Regions from separate parts of the Homo sapiens genome. Here all the other regions are linked to region 3. Evidence: fine-mapped expression QTL. A gene starts in region 3. Each other region holds a variant in brackets. All regions are shown on one strand. Distances are between the middles of the regions. Region 1 overlaps MSH4 (mutS homolog 4). Region 2 has its middle 31 kb from the start of LHX8. Region 3 holds the start of MSH4 (mutS homolog 4).

Region 1 (6,579 bases), 72 kb before region 3:
ATGAGTTACATCCTTTAAGATAAATGAAAATGTCTGCTTCTTTGACAGATAAGAACTATGGTTTTAATTGGTATTGCTTTGATTAATGATGAGGTTAACATTTTTGGTACCATTTATTAATCACCTTGATTTCCTTCTTTGGGTCATTTTCCATATTTCCATTGGCATTTCAATATTTTCCTATGAAATTACATGAGTTTTATGATGACAGAAATTAGTATTTTGTCTGTCTGATACAGTTAGGGTTTGTCTCCCCACCCAAATCTCATCATAAATTATAATCCCTAGAATTCCCATAATCCTCACTTTTCCAGGGAGAGACCAGATGGAGGTAATTGAATAATGTGGGCAGTTTCCCTCATGCTGTTCTCATGATGGTGAGTGAGTTCTCATCAGATCTGATCGTTTTATAAGTGTGTGATAGTTCCTCCTGCATTCCTTCTCTTTCCTGCTGCCTTGTAACAAAGGTGCCTTGTTTCCCCTTCTCCTTCTGCCATGATTGTACATTTCCTGAGGCCTACCCAGCCATACTGAACTGTGAGTCAATTAAATCTGTTTCCTTTATGAATTTCCCAGTCTTTGGTAGTTCTTTATAGCAGTATGAAAACAGACTAATAAACTGTCATTTGTTATAAATTTTTCCTACCTTTGCCTTTTACTTTGCTTTTGACATACCAAAGTTTAAAATTTGTGTTTCATGAAATCTCTCAATATTTTTCTGGTGATTTATTCCATTTATTTCATTACAAGAAAGGTGAAAACATTTTTGAAGTCTTTTGCCACATTACTTTAACTATACATATTTGTATTAGTCCTTTCTCATGCTGCTAAGAAAGACATACCCAAGACTGGGTAATTTATAAAGGAAAAAGGTTTAATTGACTCACAATTCCACATGGCTGGGGAGGCCTCACAATCATGGCAGAAGGTGAATAAGGAGCAAAGTCATGTTTTACATGGCAGCAGGCAAGAAGAACATGTGCAGGGGAACTCCCCTTTAAACAACCATCAGATCTCGTGAGACTTATTCACTACCAGGAGAACATGGGGGAAACTGCCCTATGATTCAATTACCTCCACCTGGCCCTGCCTTTGACATGTGGGGATTATTACAACTCAAGGTGAGTTTTGGGTAGGGAAACAGCCAAACCATATAATTCTGCCCCTAGCCCCTGCCAAATCTCATGTCTTCACATTTCAAAACCAATCATTCCTTCCAAAGAGTCTCCCAAAGTCTTAACTCATTTCAGCATTAACTCAAAAGTCCACAGTCCAAATCTCATCTGAGACAAGGCAAGTCCCTTCTGCCTATGAGCCTATAAAACTGGAAAGCAAGTTAGTTACTTCCTAGATACAATTGGGGTACAGGCATTGGGTAAATACACCCATTCCAAATGGGAGAAAATGGCCAAAATGGAGGGGCTACAGGCCCCACGCAAGTCCAAAATCCAGTGGGACAGTCAAACCTAAAAGCTCCAAAATGATCTCCTTCGACTCCATGTCTCACATACAGGTCACACTGATGCAAGAAGTGAACTCCCATAGCCTTGAGCAGCTCCACCCTTGTGCCTTTGCAGGGTACAGCCCCCTGAACCCTGCAGCTGCTTTTAAGGCTGGTGTTGAGTGTCTGTGGCTTTTCCAGGTGCATGGTGCAATCTGTCGGTGGATCTACCATTCTGGAGTCTGGAGGACAGTGGCCCTCTTCTCACAGATCCACTAGGCAATGCCCAAGTGGGGACTCTGTGTGGGGGCTTTTGCCCATTTTCCTTCTGCACTGTCCTAACAGAGGCTCTCCATGAGGGTCCCGTCCCTGAAGAAGACTTCTGCCTGGACATCCAGGCATTTCCGTACATCCTCTGAAATCTAGGTGGAGGCTCCCAAACTATTCTTGACTTCTGTGCACCTGCAGGCTCAACACCACATGGAGGCTGCCAAGGCTTGAGGCCTGCACCCTCTGAAGCCATGGCCCGAGCTGTGTGTTGGCCACTTTTAGCCATAGCTGGAGCAACTGCGACGCAGAGCACCAAGTCCCTAGGCTGCACAGAGCAAGCGGGGCCAGAAAACCATTTTTTCCTCCTAGATCTCTGGGCCTGTAATGGAAGGGGCTGCCATAAAGGTCTCTGACATGACCTGGAGACATTTTCCCCATTGTCTTGGTGATTATTAACTTTTGCCTCCTTGTTACTTATGCGAATTTCTTCAGCTGGTTTGAATTTCTCCCCAGAAAATGGGATTTTCTTTTCTACTGTATCCTCAGGCTGCAAATTTTCCAAACTTTTATACTCTGCTTCCTCTTGAATGCTTCACTGCTTAGGAATTTCTTCCCCCTGGATACCCTCTCTCTCAAGTTCAAAGTTCCACAGATCTCCAGGGCAGGGGAAAATGCTGCCAGTCTCTTTGCATAGCAAGAGTGACCTTTATTCCAGTTCCCAAAAATCCCTCATCTCCATCTGAGACCACCTCAGCCTGGACCTTACTATCCCTATAACTATCAGCATTTTGGTCAAAGCCATTCAGCAAGTCTCTAGGAAGTTTCAGACTTTCCTACAACTTCCTGTCTTCTGAGCCCTCCGAACTGTTCCAGCCTCTGCCTGTTACCCAGTTCCAAAGTTACTTCCATATTTTCAGGTACCTTTACAGCAGCACCCCACTCTACTGGTAAAATTTACTGTATCAGTCTGTTCTCAGCTGCTAATAAAGACATACCCAAGACTGGGAAATTTATAAAGGAAAAAGGTTTAATTGACTCACAGTTCCACATGGCTGGGGAGGCCTCACAATCATGGCAGAAGGTAAATCAGGAGCAAAGTTACATCTTACATGCCGGTAGGCAAGAAGAACATGTGCAGGGGAACTCTGCTTTATAAAACCATCAGACCTTGTGAGACTTATTCACTACCAAAAGAACAGTATGGGAGAAACCACCCCCATGATTCAATTATCTCCACCAGTCCCCGCCCTTGAAATGTGGGGATTCTTACAATTTAAGGTGAGATTTGGGTGGAGACACAGCCAAACCATGTTAATATTTATTAGAATAATCTCTATAACAAAGTTATTCCATATTTTTCATTATTTCTTTTTCAAAAGCAGTTCCCTTTATCACTTCAATAAAAACAAGTTTTACACAGTGTAGTATTTAAAAGTTAATGAGAAAATAATCATCTTGTAACCATCAGAGTAATAATTACTTCAGGTAAGAGCCATCAATTAATTCTACAATCAATGGGTGGAAGTTTGATGAGGATTGGGTTATTTACACATTCTCAAAATAACTCTCCATAGATTAATAACTTATTAATTACAAAAGAAAATCTGAATTTATGGTGAAGAAATTGATCAGTTAATATCACCAAGAATGAGGAAATGGCATTATGTGCCTCTTGATGTGATGCACTAAAAAGGATACATCATAGAGTATTAAGGCCAAATATGCACAGATGAATTTAATCAGGAGAAAGCAATCACATAAATTGAGGAAATTCTACTTAAAAAGTTGACCCTTATGCTTCAAAATGTCAGTATCATGAACAAAGGCTGAGAAACTTCTCCACTTCAAAGGAGTTTTAAAAAACATGACATTAAATATAAGATATGATCCTGGATTGGACCCTATATC[A/T]GGAAAAAAATGCTATAAAGAACATTATTAGAACAATTTTAAAAATTTGAGTATGGGATACATATTATAAAATAGTATTGCATCAGTATTAATTATTCTGAATTTGATAATAATATTATGATTATATAAGAGAACATCTTTTTGTTGGGAGACTTTAGTCTCCTAAGTACTTAGTACCTTAGTACTTAGGTGCTGCAATTTATTCTTAAATGGTTCAGTAAGCATAATAAGGCTAACAATGTGTATGTGTATGTAAAGTATGTACAAAGAAAAAAAATATGGGAAATTCGCCATGTTATTCTTGCAATTTTCCGAGTTTGAAATTTTTTTCCAACAAAAAGTTAAAAAATAATGCTGGACATGTTTTGTACGATACACACACATAAATTACCTTTAAAGGATCCACAAGTTCCAAGGTATGTTTTAAGTATATTAAATTTGTTATCTTTGATTCAGCAGCATTGACCTGTTAAGATAAAAACCCAAATTTGGATGGACACCATAAATATTTAATAGAACAATGGGTTTTCCTCTTGAACATTCTTACTCTTTCCATATCCCATATATTTTTATATATCAGCCTAGCCGCAATGCAAGCCTAAAGAATGATACAAAATTATTGACCCACCATAATTAACCTAGCACACCGGTTTCCCAAAAGTCTGGAAATGAGAAGAGTTCATCTCTTTGTATCCAATTTTCATTTCTATTTCAATCTCTTGGGTTCAATTTAAACTGAATAGCAAAAGGAGATGCAGTCCAATCCTGAGCAGCACCAAGAGACTAAGATTAACTGAAAAAGGCACAAAGAGTATTTGTAGATAGATGATATTTTAAAAGGCTGAATCCAAACCTCCCAGATAGTTATAGAACAACACTGATTTCCCTCATTGGTTCCTGTTTGTTCAAGTAAAACTTTTCATAATTCCACTAGGAATTATAGTTTGCCAAAATAAAGCAATATCAACATTCCAAATTTTATTAATAAATTTTATATAAATTAAATTGCACTCTAGAATTGGGCAGTGTTACCAAACCTGGAGGAATGAGGAATGATCCTGTGCCTGGACTAATTTACCAATACTGACAGATGAAGTAGAGTTTTAGGACTACAATTATGACATAATGTACTTGATATGAAGATGTTTCTTTTTTTTTTTTAATAGAGATGGGGTTTCACCATGTTGGCTAGGCTGGTCTCGAACTCCTGACCTCAGATGATCCAGCCATCTCGGCCTCCCAAAGTTCTGGGATTACAGGCATGAGCCACCATGCCTAGCCAGATGTTTCTTTTTGAGGTACCGTGGTCTATAGCCCCACTGCACAATACCTGGACTGTTCTGTGACCATATGCATCAATTTAGAAAAAATGCCATAATAAATGTTGTTAGCCCCAAATGGGTTATGTCATGTTCTCTTACAATGGATCTCTGAAACTAACTGGAAGATTAAAAATAAATAAAATTCACTAAACAGAAAACAACTATCATCACTATCACTAAAGAAGAATAATTCATGCTAGGTGCAATGGCTTATGTCGGTAATCCCAGCATTTTGGGAGTCTGAGGTAGGAGGATCACTTGAGCTCAAGAGTTTGAGACCAGCCTGGGCAACATGGCAAAACTCTGCCTCTACAAAAAAAAAGTTAAGAAATTAGCTGGGTGTGGTGGCACATGTCTGTGGTCCAGCTACATAGAGGCTGAGGTGGGAGGATCACTTGAGCCCAGGAGGTTGAGCCTGCAGTAAGCAGTGATCACACCAGCCTGGGTGACAAAGTGAAACCCTGTCTCAAAAAAGGGCAGGGGGATAATTCCAAAAATAGCTAACACACCACTGAAGAAGAAGAAGATGGAAAGACTAACTAATGAATGAATGTCAACTTCTAATAAAATTACAGTAATTAAGAAATGATGGTATTGACGTAAAAACAGAGTCCAATGGAACAGAATAAAGAGTCTAGAAATAGACCTAAACATATATATGGGCACTCGATTTATGACAAAGGTTGACTGCGGAACAGTGGGGAAAGGAGAGTCTTTTCCGTAAATAGTACCAGTAGAATTATGAATCCATATGGGAAGAAAAGAAACATGGCCCTTCCCTCAACCTACACACAAAAATTAATTCCAGATGGATTGTATATCTAAGTATAAAAGGTAAAACAATAAAATATCTGGAATTAATAAAGAAGAATATCTTCATGGCCTTGTGTGTTCTAATTAACTTTTATAGATTTTGTAATTGATGATTTGGCATCCATTAATCACACGGTGAAACTAATAGCTAAAGTTGTTTACATCTCCCTTGCAGTCTGGCTTTTGCAGGCATGTGAAAATCATATTACAAACTCTCCAATCACAAACTTCAACATCTGTGTTTTACTTCCTGCCCAACAGGTGACTTCCCTACCTAGCAACTTCCTGGCATTTTTGCCCATGTTTCTCCTTGCTCCTTCTGCCTCTCGACCAACCCTAGTACTTCCCCAGGTGGTCCTGCCTGACATGCCCTCTCCTCTTGGGAACTATACGTAATAAACAATAGCATTAGTGTCTCCATGTTATCATTCAATCATCTTCATAAATTAAAATTAAAATTCCATGGGTACAATCAAGATATTAGAGTAGGTAAAGACTTCTTATGCAGGACAGAGCAAACACTAACTATGAAGGGAAAAAAAACTGATAAACTAGATCCATTTAAATTATGAATTTCTATTTATCAAAAGATATTACTAACTCAAGATAGGTTCTCCAAAAGCCAACTCTGAGAAACTAGAATTTGAGAGCAAATAATTTATTTTAAAAAGTAATTCCAGCAAAAACAAGCAAGGGAGTGGGGAAGTAAGACAGAGAAGGAAAGGATACCTGTACAGGAGACATTAATGATCAAGTAACCAATTTGTCTCCATCTCTCAGATGGAGACATCTGAGAGATGGAATAGAGTAAGTTTCAGAAGCTAT
Region 2 (6,579 bases), 630 kb after region 3:
CATAGGTAGTAAGAGGCTGGACTGGAATTGGAACCAGGCTCTAACTACTTGAAAGCAGACCCTGTGAGCTTTCCACAAACTACAGTGAGCTGTGGTCATAGCTTCTGAGAAAGGGATTTCAGAATTCCTGCACCTGAGGCCAGAACAGGAAAAGCTCCCAGTGTGTGAAACATATGACTGAGTTATGTGTTTCCTGTGCGTCCTCTCTCTTTAAAAAAAAAGAGGGGTTGACAGCAGATTATCCAGGACAAATTGAAAACAATGACCAGGCCAGGTGCAGTGGCTCACGCCTGTAATCCCAGCACTTTGGGAGGCTGAGGCAGGTGGATCATCTACGATCAGGAGCTCAAGACCAGCCTGGCAAACATGGTGAAACCCCATCTCTACTAAAAAACAATGTAAAAATTAGCCAAGTGTGGAGGTGGGTGCCTGTAATTCCAGCTACTTGGGAGGCTGAGGCAGGAGAGTAGTTTGAACCCAGGAGGCAGAGGTTGCAGTGAGCCGAGACCACACCATTGCACTCCAGCCTGGGCAACAAGAGTGAAACTCTGTCTAAAACAAACAAACAAACAGAAAACTATGACTAGATACCTATCCGACCATTCTGGCCCACTTTGAAGGCTAATGAAGCAAGGTGTGCTGATGGCCTAGACAGCTACTGCGGGCAGAGGAAAAAGAAAACTTTACATTTTAACCTATATTAGACAGAAAATGGGAGGAGCCATTCGAGAGAAATAAAAAGACTCTGCAGCCACATTTACACAGTAAAAGCCAAATGGAAGATTGAGCAATTACCCAGTAACTGCAGGCTGGGGAGTCAGCCAATTTGGGTAACTCAGATAAAAACATGTGTTTGGCTGCTTCTCTTGCCTGAATTACTCGATAATGACCCAACCTGTCTGTTTTGCTTAGTCGAAGAGAACAAGAAACAGTTCCATCTGAGGCAGAGAACTTCCATGGGCCATCGTGTAGCCCAGGCTGAGGAGTTGCTGGGGAAAGGCTGTCCCTGGGATCCTGGCATGGAGTAAATTAACCATGGCAAGAGACTGCTCTGTCAATGCCCTGTGCTAGCTCCTAGAAACCCTAACATGAATAGTCTAGGGTCTCTAGTCTAATCTTGAGACAAAACTGAGGAAGGAAAATTATAATAAAACTTATTAAAGTGTAGAGATATCCTTTGAGGAAATGATGGGAACACAAAGAACTCACCCACATTGGGGTGGGGTGTGGGGAACAATCAGGGCAGGCTTCCTGGAGGGGATGATATTTGAGCTTGGTCCTGGATGATGAGGAATTGTTAGTCAGGAAAAGAGAAATGGAGAAAGGAGAGGGAAAGCTAGTGAAAGATGGTGGCATTTTTTTTCCTCTGGTGTTAGGAGTTAGTTTACCAAGGAATAAATACAGATAACTTTCAGGGTTTATTGTGCACCAGATACTTTTCTAAGTACTTTATATGTACTATCTTATCACAGGGTCACAATAACCATTTGGGAAAAGTGCTATTATTAGTCCATTTTGCATATGAGAAAACTCTGGCACAGCGCAGTTTAATAACTTGCCCACAGTCACCATGGTGGGATGTGGCAAAACGAGGACTCCAGACAGCATGACGTGAAAGTTTTTGTGATACTTCTCCATGTTGTCTGTAATGTAGCTTCAGCCCTACTGCCATGCCATTCCTGCAGATGTCCATGACAGAGCAGAATAAACTAATGCTTCACAAAGGCCAGAAGTCCACTCTCAGATTAGAACACAAGCAGGCAAGTGACACACAGAGGCTGCAACTCTGCCTTTGCCCTGCCTGCTCCTGTGCCAGCTCAGCTCCACTTCGACACCTTATCCCCTGCCCTACATGAGCACTGCATGCTCCTCTGAGCCCATGAATTTCCTGTAGACTGTCTCATCGCCCTCATTCTATCCTAACAGGAGAGGAAGCCCATTATAGGATTGGATCCAAGTCTTTGTTAGAAGTTTCCCGATCCTTCTCCCACCTTGGTTCCATTGATGACCCTTTGCAAGTGCTAGGCTCTACTGTGGAGCCTGTCAAGCTAGTTTTGTTCACCAAGACTTCTGAGACATGTTTTTACCATTGTCATAAATGCACCATGCTGTCTTCTGAAAGACAAATGATGAACTAGGAAAATTGCATATGGTCTCGCTTGGAGGAGTTTCAACCAAAGATGAAATTTGTGGTTCAGAACCATGCTGGCAAAATAACAGACTTATTCCAATACATCTGAAAGAAATGAGCTAATAACTAGTAGTGGTTCTCTAGAGACATCACCCTGGTTCCGGGAAGTAAATATTTTGAAATTGAATTTGTAACAATGGTTTCCATTTTCAAATATGGCATCATAATTCCTTTGGGTTTAAGAAAATTATTTTGGAAAACATTCAAATCATTTCTGCAAACTAAATTTTACAGACTCTCTACATCCAAATCACAGAAGGTCACACCTCTACTTGACTGAATAATTCTTTAAGATCAAGAAGGGAGTTAATGTAGACAGGAAGTAGATGTTTTCCATTTGTAGGGAGGTTGGAGTAAAAACACTTTGCTGGAGAATGTGTAACTCATTAGCAGCATAGATGCTCCACCTCTGACTTTATTTAAAGAAATGCACAAAGTGCTTTGTTCCTGGGGTTGCCTGGGATAGGGCAGTGCTTGCCAAACTTCTGGTGCTCCATCACCTCCAACTGCCCGGCCTCAGAGTGCCTGATTTCCTGCCACTAACCCCGCCCTTCAAAATTAATGGATCATGTTTTTACCATGTCTTTTTTCCATTCATCTCACTTTTGCTTCATAAAAACTTTCCTTTTACTGTTGAGGAAATCAGCATGCAGGGAGGCTTAAGTGTCCTTGGGATACAGTTAATTGGTGTCAGAGAAAGTGTCAAAATCCAGCTGTCTCCCATTCCATGCTAAATGGTGTAAAAAGAATATAAATTGCCACAGGTATATAAGATATTTGCTAAAGGAAGGGTAGAATATTTTCCTTAAGGATTTGAAAAGATCTGTTTTGGAATTTGAAGTTATCCTAGGACGCTCAAACATAGAGTCTTATTCTGATTGTTTTTCTACCACCCTCATTCAATCCCTGAGTGCTTACTTGGTGGCAGGAACTGGGGAATGTAATGGAGAGCAAGACAGATGTTGTTTCTACCTCCCCAGGACCCCTTCTATTCTTTATTTCTTAACATCTTTTTTTCCTCCATTGATACCCCCATACAAGTGCCCATACACAGTCCATCCCTAAACTCCACTCTCAGCCCCCTAGCAAGTTCAG[A/G]TCTTTGTGGTAAGTACTGTACTTGATGACAATTTAGAAAAGGAGAAGCAGTTCCTTGCAGTGGTTTTCACATCCTCTAAGCCTATGGCAGTCTATTTCTTATGAAACTCAAGGAACTGGGGGAAATTTGTTAATTTATTCTCCTAAGATCTCTATACATTTATAAAAATAATCTGGTGCCCTGGAGAATTCTTGCATATTAAAACCAAAGGCCTAATTATGTTAATTGAAGCTTCCTAAATTTCAATTCCCTCATCTGTTGAATGAGAGCATGATGATATACAGAAACGCATTTAAAAAGTATGAAGGACCATGTAATAAAGTTATCACCATAATCAGCAACAAAGAAAACAGAATATGATAGAGTGCCAGGTACTAAAGTAAAACATTTGATATCAAGTGAATGAAACCTCAGCTGAAAAAATCCTAATGAATGCTCACTTTAGTAATATATGCAGAATAACTAAAGGCAAAAAAAAGTCACAAAAGTGGCAGCTTGTGCTTAAATTTAGCCCCTTTATAAGATACTAGTTTTCGGCTGGACGTAGTGGCTCATGCCTATAATCTCAGCACTTTGGGAAGACAGGTGGGAGGACTGCTTGAACCCAGGAATTCGAGACCAGCCTGTGCGTCATATTATATAGCAAGACCTAGTCTCTACAAAAAAAAATTTGTGTGGTGTGTGGTGGCATGCATCTGTAGTTCTGGCTACTTGGGAAGATCACTTGTGCCCAGTAGTTGGAACACAGCGAGGCTCTGCCTGGAAAAAAAAAAAAAAAAAAGGATACTGGTTCTCCGAAATGCAAACTACAATTTTATATCAAGTAATAAATAAAGTTTTTTAAAATTGTATTTTTGAGTATAAGATTAAAAAATATTTATCAACTCCAATTTAGGCAGGACAGACAAGGGTTCCAAAAACACTTCAAACACTGCTGGTGGAGATGTAATTTAGTGCAACATTTGGTGGGAAATCAATGCATTTCAAGAGCCTTTTAAACCTATGCATGCACATCCATTCCACTTCCAAGAATTCACACTGGGGAAATAAGAATATACATTAAAAGGTAGCAGGTAGCCACAAAGATGCCTTCACAGTGTCATTTAAAATGGTAATAGTATAGCATAGTGGTTAAGATTATGGCATCTGGAATCACTGAGCTGCTAAATCCAAATACTGGCTTTGTTACTTGCCACCAAGATAGTGGACATATCAATTTTTTAATTTCTATGTTTGTAAAATAAGGGTGATAATAGAATCCATTTCATGAAGTTGCTGTGAATACATATCAAAATACCCCTGAGGCACTCAAACAGGACATCCTGAAAGTGCTCACAATGTTAGGCTCTATTCATAATAATAAAAAGTTAGATACAACCTATTTATCTAATAAAATTGTTTTATTCAAGCAGTGTAATACTATATGTTTTAGTCCATTCAGGCTGCTATAACAAAATATCAGACAGGGTAATTTATGAACAACAGAAATGTATTGGTCACAGTTCTGGAGGTAGTGAACAAGATCAAGGCACCAGCAGATTCTGTCTGGTGAGGACCCAGTCCTCATAGATGGCACCTGTGTGTCTTCACATGGCTGAAGGCCAAAGGGGCAAACAAGCCCCTTAGGTCTCTTTTATAAGGGCACTAATCCCATTTGCAAGGGTTCTTCCCTCATGACCTGGTTATCTTTCAAAAGCCCTACCTCTTAATACCACCACATTGCAGACTATGTTTTAATACAAGAAATTTGAGGGGACATAGTACTATATATCAATTAAAATGATATTGTAGGTAATATTTGACTTGTAAAGATATTTACTAAAGGGAAAATGTAGGCTACAAAATAGTACTTACTATCTGATTGAATCCAAGTAGATGTTTATGAGATGTCATCCAGTGTACCTGAACTTGTTTTGGACTCAGATCCATCTAAATATTTAGTTGTGTTTCAAAAGAGTAAAAATCATATAGTGCTAATATCAGTTTCTTTATCTCCTCCGGTAGGAGCCATTGAGAATTTTTCCTACACTAATATACTTTTGGTACTTAGTGTATTGCAACCTAAATTACTTCTGTTCTAAATAATAAAATAGAAACATTACTTTTGCTAACTGGTAAAGTCATCCATGCCATAACAAAAGTCCCAATATGCCACCTAGTTTAATCATGCTAGTAGAGTAATTATACACATAATATACCACATCAAGAAATACTACAGCTATCAGCTTTCAGATGACTGTAACAAATTTTAAAAGCATGAGCTGTGATTCTATCTAACAATGTTTATTATGGGATATTCAAAACAGGTGTACTTATAATTTACAACGAGTGATGTGGAATTTTAAAAATGACATTTGTCAAATGTAAAACTACTACTAAATACTACCTTGTCCAAATAAAAAGAATCACTTAAAGAGTATTGACTTAGTGTGACTTCCATTTCAATGTTTGAATGGGATTCTTGATTTGAATTGCAAAAAAAAAAAAAAGGTATCCTACCCTCTCACAGCTCATGAATGTCTTCACACCTAAGAGATAACTACTTGTTACCCACATCTTTGCTACTCCAACAATATAGAGTTTTCTTTCTCTAATCTTCACAAAAGCTGACCATACTCAATTTCAAGTAAGTATTGTGCTCACATACTTAAACACTGAATATTACTAGCATGGAAATACTTCAATTCTTTCCTAATATTAGGTTTTAAAAATAAGATCTCTGGCTAGAGATAGCAAAGTCAGAAGCTTCTATCACATATCATATTTTTAGTACTTTCACATCTATCTCTTTTCATGATTAACAGTTTTATATTCAGGATATATAAATCTCATCTATTTTGATAGCTTTGAGCCTCTTTGTTAGGAAGTTTTACTTCAACTTTGGGCATTCATCTTTGGAACTAAAAAGGGTGGTGATATATTTTTGTAAAAACTCTCTGTACAGAGTCAGAGGATGATGAGCACAGGAAAAAGACAGCAAATAAAAATGAATACTCACAATCAGCCACCTCCCAAGCTAAGGGATGCCAATTATAGTCAGCTGGGAAATGCTGTAAACTGCTAACAGTGCAGAGCTTGGCTATACTACAAAAGCTTTCCTAGACATCAGGTAAAGGTAAAGCTGACCTCATCACTTCATGCCTGGGACAGGTAGACAAAAACCCACAGAGATTAGCATCAGGCTCAAGATTAGATGGGTTGACTTCTGGCTACAAAGGGATTTAAAATAGAGTAGCCGGTTTAAAAAAAAAAAAATCCCTCCCCTTTCTCCCATAATGAAGCAGGTTTGTTG
Region 3 (6,579 bases):
TGACCTCTATTTTGCTATATAGTCTTCATATTCTCTGCTGTGGTCCCAACATACTGGTAACTTTCAAATCCATATTTCCCTCAAGTTTCTCTCTTCTTAGCTCTAGTTTCCTATATTCAATTATCTTAATATAAATATATGGATATCCCACAGGCTTTTCACACTCAGCATGTCCATAACAGAGCTCATCATCTTCCCTCTAAAATTTGCTTTGCCTACAAAATTCCCAGAATCAGAAAATACTACTACCATCTATCCAGTCACCAAAACCAGAGACCTGGTGTTGAATATGGGGGGTCTCTGGGTTAAATTTGTCTCCCAGATCTAATTCTCACAACTATATCTACATTCAAGTTTATCTACCTAGATCACTCTCCTGCTCTAGCCAAGCAAAATTATTAGCAGTTTTACATGATTCTTCTGTGCCTTTGCACGTGTTTTTCTCAAGAATGCGCTCCAGCTGTTTCCCTTTGGCTGGCATTCTTCTTCCTACTTATTCTTGAAGACCAGTTCAAGGTGCACTTACTCTGTGAAATGTCTTTTCCCACTTTTGTCCCCATACTTTAATTATACCTACCTCAAAAATTATAAATACCTCAAATACAGTTATTTCTTAAATGTGTATTTGTTGATTTTTAAGTCTGTCTTCTCTACTGAACCTTAAGTTCATTGAGAGCACAGATTATTATCCCCAGCTGCTAACATAATTTGAACCTTTGTTCGCCTATTTGGGCCTTGGTTCTATCTGTAAAACAGGAACAAAAAAAAAATCTACTCTGCAAAATTATTGTGAGGATCAAAGATACCGTCTGCCTAGTAAGAAGCCAGAACAAAGTAGGTGCATATAAATTAGTGAATGTTATCATTACTGATAAATAAGTGGGTGACCAAGCATCTGATGAAGAGAGGGATTAGACTGACAATGTGAACATTCATGTTGCTTTAAAGGAATTGCAAGTAGCTCAGTTTTGTTAGAAAGCAGGGTAAATATTAAATGATGAGGGATAAATCTGTAAAGATTAGAAACCGATCCCAATTGCTTTGGCTATCCTTCTAGAGAGTTTGATCTTTTACCTGCAGATACAGGTCTACTGATTTAAGTGGCAAGGGACATGATAAGATCATTTTCCACATAACTCTGGTGGTACAGTAAGTAAGCTACAAGGATGGAAGAACACTTAAGAGTTTGAGGGCTAGGTGCAGTGGCTCACACCTGTAATCCCAGCATTTTGGGAGGCTGAGGTAGGAGGATCGCTTGAGCCTAGAAGTTCGAGACCAGGCTGGGCAACGTAGGAAAACACTGTCTCTACAAAAAAATTTTTTAAATTAGCCATCTGTAGGGGCACATGCCTTGGTCCCAGCTACTCGGGAGGCTGAGGTGGGAGGATCGCTTGAGCCCAGGAATTTGAGGCTGCAGTGAGTCATGACCATGCCACTGCACTCCAGCCTGGGCAACAGAGCAAGACTCTGTCTCAAAAAAAAAAAAAAAGTGCAGAGAGGAATTTAATTAATCATATAGTCAGCCTGAGGTATCCATTAGTCCATCAATAAAAACTTCAGAAGACAGTCTGAAGTAAGTCTGGAGTGTAGATGAGATCTGAGCTGTGGAGATAGTCACATCTAGGTAGAAGTGGCCTAGGAAAAAAAGCTTTAATGACATGCCCATAATTTGGGAACAAAGGTGGGCACAGCAATTCTCTGGGAGGTAGCAGAAAAACAGGGGCAAGTGGAATCAAGGAAGCCAAATTAAAAGAGTTTAAGAGAAGACCAGTCAAGAACATTAAACATAGGCCAGGCAGCAGTGGCTCATGCCTGTAATCCCAATGCTTGGGCAGACCGAGGCAGGAGCACTTGAGACCAGGAGTTTGAGACCAGCATGGGCAGCATAGCGAGACTCTGTTTCTAAAAATAAAGAAATTAAGAACATTAAATACAGCAGAAAGGTCACATGAGATGAACTGAAAAATGACCATTGGATTTGGTATTTGTTACTTTACCATTGTGTTGCAATCGTGTGTGAAAAATGGTGATGCTTTGTCATGAATAGAGACTAACAAAATAATAAATGATTTGAAGGACATGCATCTTTTTTGTTTGTTTGTTTTGAGTCAGGGTCTCACTGTGTCACCCAGGCTGAAATGCAGTGGCGCAATCTCAGCTCACGGCAGCCTCGACCTCCCGGACTCGCCATCCTCCCACCTCAACCTCCTGAGTAGCTGGGACCACAGTCACGTGCCACCACACCCAGATAATTTTTGTACTTTTAGTAGAGATAGGGGATGGGGGTGGGAGGTTCACCATGTTGGCCAGGCTGGTGTGGAACTCCCGGCCTCAAGTGATCCGCCCACCCTGGTTTCCCAAAGTGCTGGGATTACAGGCGTCAGCCACCGCCCAGCCCACTCTTTTAATACTAAACATATTATTTTCCCTGAATTAGATGAAATGTTCAATTTAATCTATTTTATCCCACCTTAGCAGGATTTGGAGAATTAAATTCAGCAGCCAAAGATCAGCTCACAACTTCTATCAGCAAACTCACGCACAAACTGTCATTTGTCAGACACTGTGAGGGACGTTATATGGGATACTTCAGCCTTTCTCAGAACTGAGCCATCCACAGTCAAGGTCTTGCAATAGAACCAATTTGAAAAGTCAAGGCTTCTAATCACCCAGACTCACCAAATTCCCAGGGCACTCAGATCTCACGCCCCAACCAAATCACAACTTCACTGTGGTAACCACCACCCACGTGCCCCCGAGCCTCCATGAACTGCCGGCCTCTAGCCTCAAGGAGACTCCTCCACCCAATCACTCCTTGCCTTGAGCTGGCCGGGAGTTTGGCGCGGGGCAGGGAAGGCTGCTGCTGCTGCTGCTCCGGTCGCCCGCAGCTCCTGACGTGCCAGGACAGGTGGATGCAGAGACCACCTGGACCGAAGGGCGGCTCTGTGGAGTCTCCTGGAGTCCGAAATTGTAGCGGGGACCCTGAGGTGAGCGGGTTTCTCCCGACGACGGGGAAACCGCCGGGGCAGAAGGCGAGGTTGATGAGATCTCAGGCCTCAGCATCCTCCCAAACCTTCCCTGACCCGAGAAGTATGAGGTTTCTGAGCGACCCCTCCAGTAGCCCAACTACAGAAGCTGCGCCGCTGAAACGGGCGGGAGAACTGCGCGCCGACGCACTAAGCTGCACTGCGCAGGCGCAGGCAGGCTCAGCTTTCCACATGGATTCACGTACTTCAGGTCTATGACCCTGCTTCCAGCCATTCCCAAACCCATCACTTTCCACATGAACCTCACTGGAACATCCTCAGCCTGCAGGTATCAGACTGACCAGAACTCTGCAAGGCCCATCAATGACCACCCGATTTGTTAGCCCCATTATTCTCACAGCACCCAATCTCCCTTATTGCAAATGTTACATGCATTTCCCACACGTCCAAGCACACTAGCTTATCTTTAAATGTAGAAACCACCCAACACAGTACACCCAGTGCCTTTGACACAATGAGAACGTGTAATGCTCACACAGCATAACCCACCTAAGGTTGATCTTGTGACCAAATATAGGAAAGATAGTTATATTATCAAAAGATAGTATGCACATGGCTGTGTGCATAGTAGAGTAGGAAACAGGGAAAGACTGACTGGGTAAGATCTCTCAGTTAACAATTCCCCATCTACCAATTTCTAGTACTGTGGTTTCTAACATATAAATCAGTTAATGGCACACTAGAAGTTCAAACTCCAGCTTTGCAGTGGTGACCTTTAGAAAATTCCTTAAATAAGGCCAATAGTACCAACTTACCAGAGATCCATGGATTAAACATGACGAAATTATCTGGATACTGCCATACAGAAGCTATTAGAAGACATTAATTTACACCACTACTGAAATCCTGCCACTGTTGAGTATCTCAATAAACCAGTTATGCACAGCGGTTTACCCACATGCAGTGACAACAGTCCTTAAGAACATCTCTGTTCTTGGAATGATTATTGCACAGGGCATTCCAAACATACTTGAGAAAAATCTCAATTTCCATCAAAAAACCTTATTTTCAGATCGGGCACGATGGCTCCTCCCTGTAATCCCAGTACTTTGGGAGACTGAGGCCAGAGGATTACTTCACCTCCGGAGACCAGCCTGGGGAAGACAGTGCCTGTCCCCAAAATTAAGAAATCAGCTGGGCATAGTGGGCATGGTGGCAGGTACCTGTAGACCCTGGTACTCAGGAGGCTGAGGTGGAAGGACTGCTTGAGCCCAGGAGTTTAAGGTTACAGTGAGCTGTGATTGCACTACTATGCCCCAGCCTGGGGAAGAAAGGAAGACCCTGTCTCTAAAAAATAAAATTTAAAAATAGAGAATACCTCACTTTCACCAAAACTGTAAACCCCTAGAGTGATTGTACTCATTTTAGGCCAGGCGTGGTGGCTCACGCCTGTAATCCCAGCACTTTGGGAGGCCGAGGTGGGTGGATCACAAGGTCAGGCTGGTCTCCAGCTCCTCAGCATGGTGAAACCCTGTCTGTACTAAAGTAACATAAAAATTAGCCGGGCATGGTGGTGTGCGGCTGTAGTCCCAGCTACTCGAGAGGCTGCGGCTGAATTGCTTAAACCCGGCAGACGGAGGTTGCAGTTAAGCTGAGATCGTGCTGCTGCGCTCCAGCCTGGGCAACAGAGATTCTGTCACAAAAAAATAAAAAAGAGTGATTGTACCCATTTTAGCTTTTTAAGAAAAAGACAGGTGCAAAAAAATACTGTGGTGACCATCAACTTACCCGTTAGTGTTTCCTTATTTGAAGACAACTCCTTCTTTGGGTAATTCTGATATATAAAATGCTAAAAAAAAAAAAAAAAAAAAAAAAAAAAAGGACAGTCCGAATCACAACCCCATTTTAAGATGGTAGATTGCCATTTAACCTAAGTCTGTGACCAATTCAGAATAACCATATTCAAACCTATCAATCATTTCCAAATTTCAACAGCCATTTATTTTGTGCATCATTTAATTCATGTATGGGTTCTATCCACTTTCATCAGTTAACATTCTTGTTGACAAACCAATTTACATCAACTTGCTATAGAACAGATGAAAGGTATACATGGGGGAAAAATCAAGTAGAAACCTAGAGTTATTTTATGTTAGCTCAGTTATTGAACATAACAGACACAGAAGTATACACAAAGAACTGTAGTCAGAATAACAGGACTTCAGAATAAAAAGCAGAAAATAAAATACCGGTCTTTATTTTACAATATGTATAATTATATAATTTATTAAAATTAATTTAACACAATATACAAAATATTAACAGTAGTCACTTTTAGATTCGATAAGCACTTCAAATACAGAAATGTTAAAATGGCAAAACTATACTATGCAACTTTCAATTCAATGAATCTAGCTCACTAGCTCAGGCTGAACATTCACTCTCTGAAGCACTTCTTCAGGCATGCAAAAGACAGGATTAACAGGTTTAATCTGTTCTTCTCCCAAAAGTGACAATCCAGCAATTCCAAATAAGGTATGAAAAGGATCCACCTATTTAAAAAAGAATTTATATACAGATCACAAAATGAAAACTTCTTTAACTTCAAATTATGAATACCTGACCTTTACCATATACTAATTTTGTTAGCAACAAGCGACAAGAAATTTCTGTAAGATTGTTCTATATCCTTCATACACTCTACAATAAATAGAAAAAAAAACTGCTTTCAAAGCAACACTCGGAATGCCACCCTGGAAATCCATGGAACCATGAAGTAATGCAAACGCTGAAATAATTTATAGAAATATGTCAGAAATATTACTTGCCATATCTCCTGGCCTGTCTGCAAATCCCCCCGTTTCTTCATCTTGACATGCTAAAATGAAATTACGCAGTTTCTCTCTATCAATCCAATGAAGTCTTCCAATTATCTTTAGGGAAGCCAGGACCCACCATGAGTAGCATACATCTGGTAACTAGGAGGGAAAAAAGTTGCCACAATTTCATTCTCTTTTATTTCCCTAATTTTGAGAACAATTTAAAAGTGGGTTAAGTCTCACTCTTAGGTAATCTGATGTTCAAAGTGTCAAACCATGTGGAAGGACGAAATCCAGGGATATACTGATATGCAGGGTATGAAATACTTGCTTAGAATGAAAGATAATCAATTAATGGGTAAGAAGAGACCAAACTTCAATTCATAGGTAACCATGCTAAATATCTCAGTACTCACTGATAAGCATGCATCTGCTTTGTTTCTATCTGCAATGAATGCCTAACTCAGCCCCTTAACCAAGAAGCTAGCAGTATAATCATGAAATCCATGGGTATAGTTCTGTTTTTCTACAAGCACTGTCCAGGGGGGTACACACCTGCTTAAAATCAACTAAACCCTTGCTCTTCAAAATATGGTGACAGAAGTCTATAAAGAAAACCCCACTCAAGGCTGATCTCATTTTAATGAGATCCCTGAGTAACTCATAGACTCATTAGAAGCTGCCCTAGATTGTGTGCAAGTGCAGGTCCCGGTGCTCCCCACGGCCACCCATTTTTCTGTTGACAGTTCCTCAGGCTTTTTATTTCACTCTAT

Evidence for each region.
Region 1: its variant is fine-mapped to the expression of MSH4 in whole blood (TOPMed, PIP above 0.99). The same link has a PIP of 0.9 or more in prefrontal cortex.
Region 2: its variant is fine-mapped to the expression of MSH4 in lymphoblastoid cells (GTEx, PIP above 0.99).

The regions. Positions count from the first base shown.
Region 1 is chr1:75,865,020-75,871,598 of GRCh38, reverse strand. MSH4 (mutS homolog 4) reads right to left here. Exons shown (of 20, transcript NM_002440.4): 9 at 4,011-4,085. Among named protein-coding and RNA genes, the nearest start is that of ASB17, 64 kb to the left of the region's middle. The variant A/T (reference allele first, on the strand shown) is at 3,620.
Region 2 is chr1:75,162,216-75,168,794 of GRCh38, reverse strand. It overlaps a transcript of LHX8 not described here. Among named protein-coding and RNA genes, the nearest start is that of LHX8, 31 kb to the right of the region's middle. The variant A/G (reference allele first, on the strand shown) is at 3,287.
Region 3 is chr1:75,793,470-75,800,048 of GRCh38, reverse strand. It overlaps MSH4 (mutS homolog 4), which reads right to left and starts at 3,167. Exons shown (of 20, transcript NM_002440.4): 1 at 2,820-3,167. The coding sequence starts at 3,063. RABGGTB (Rab geranylgeranyltransferase subunit beta) reads right to left here. Exons shown (of 9, transcript NM_004582.4): 8 at 5,816-5,965; 9 at 4,963-5,539. The coding sequence ends at 5,399.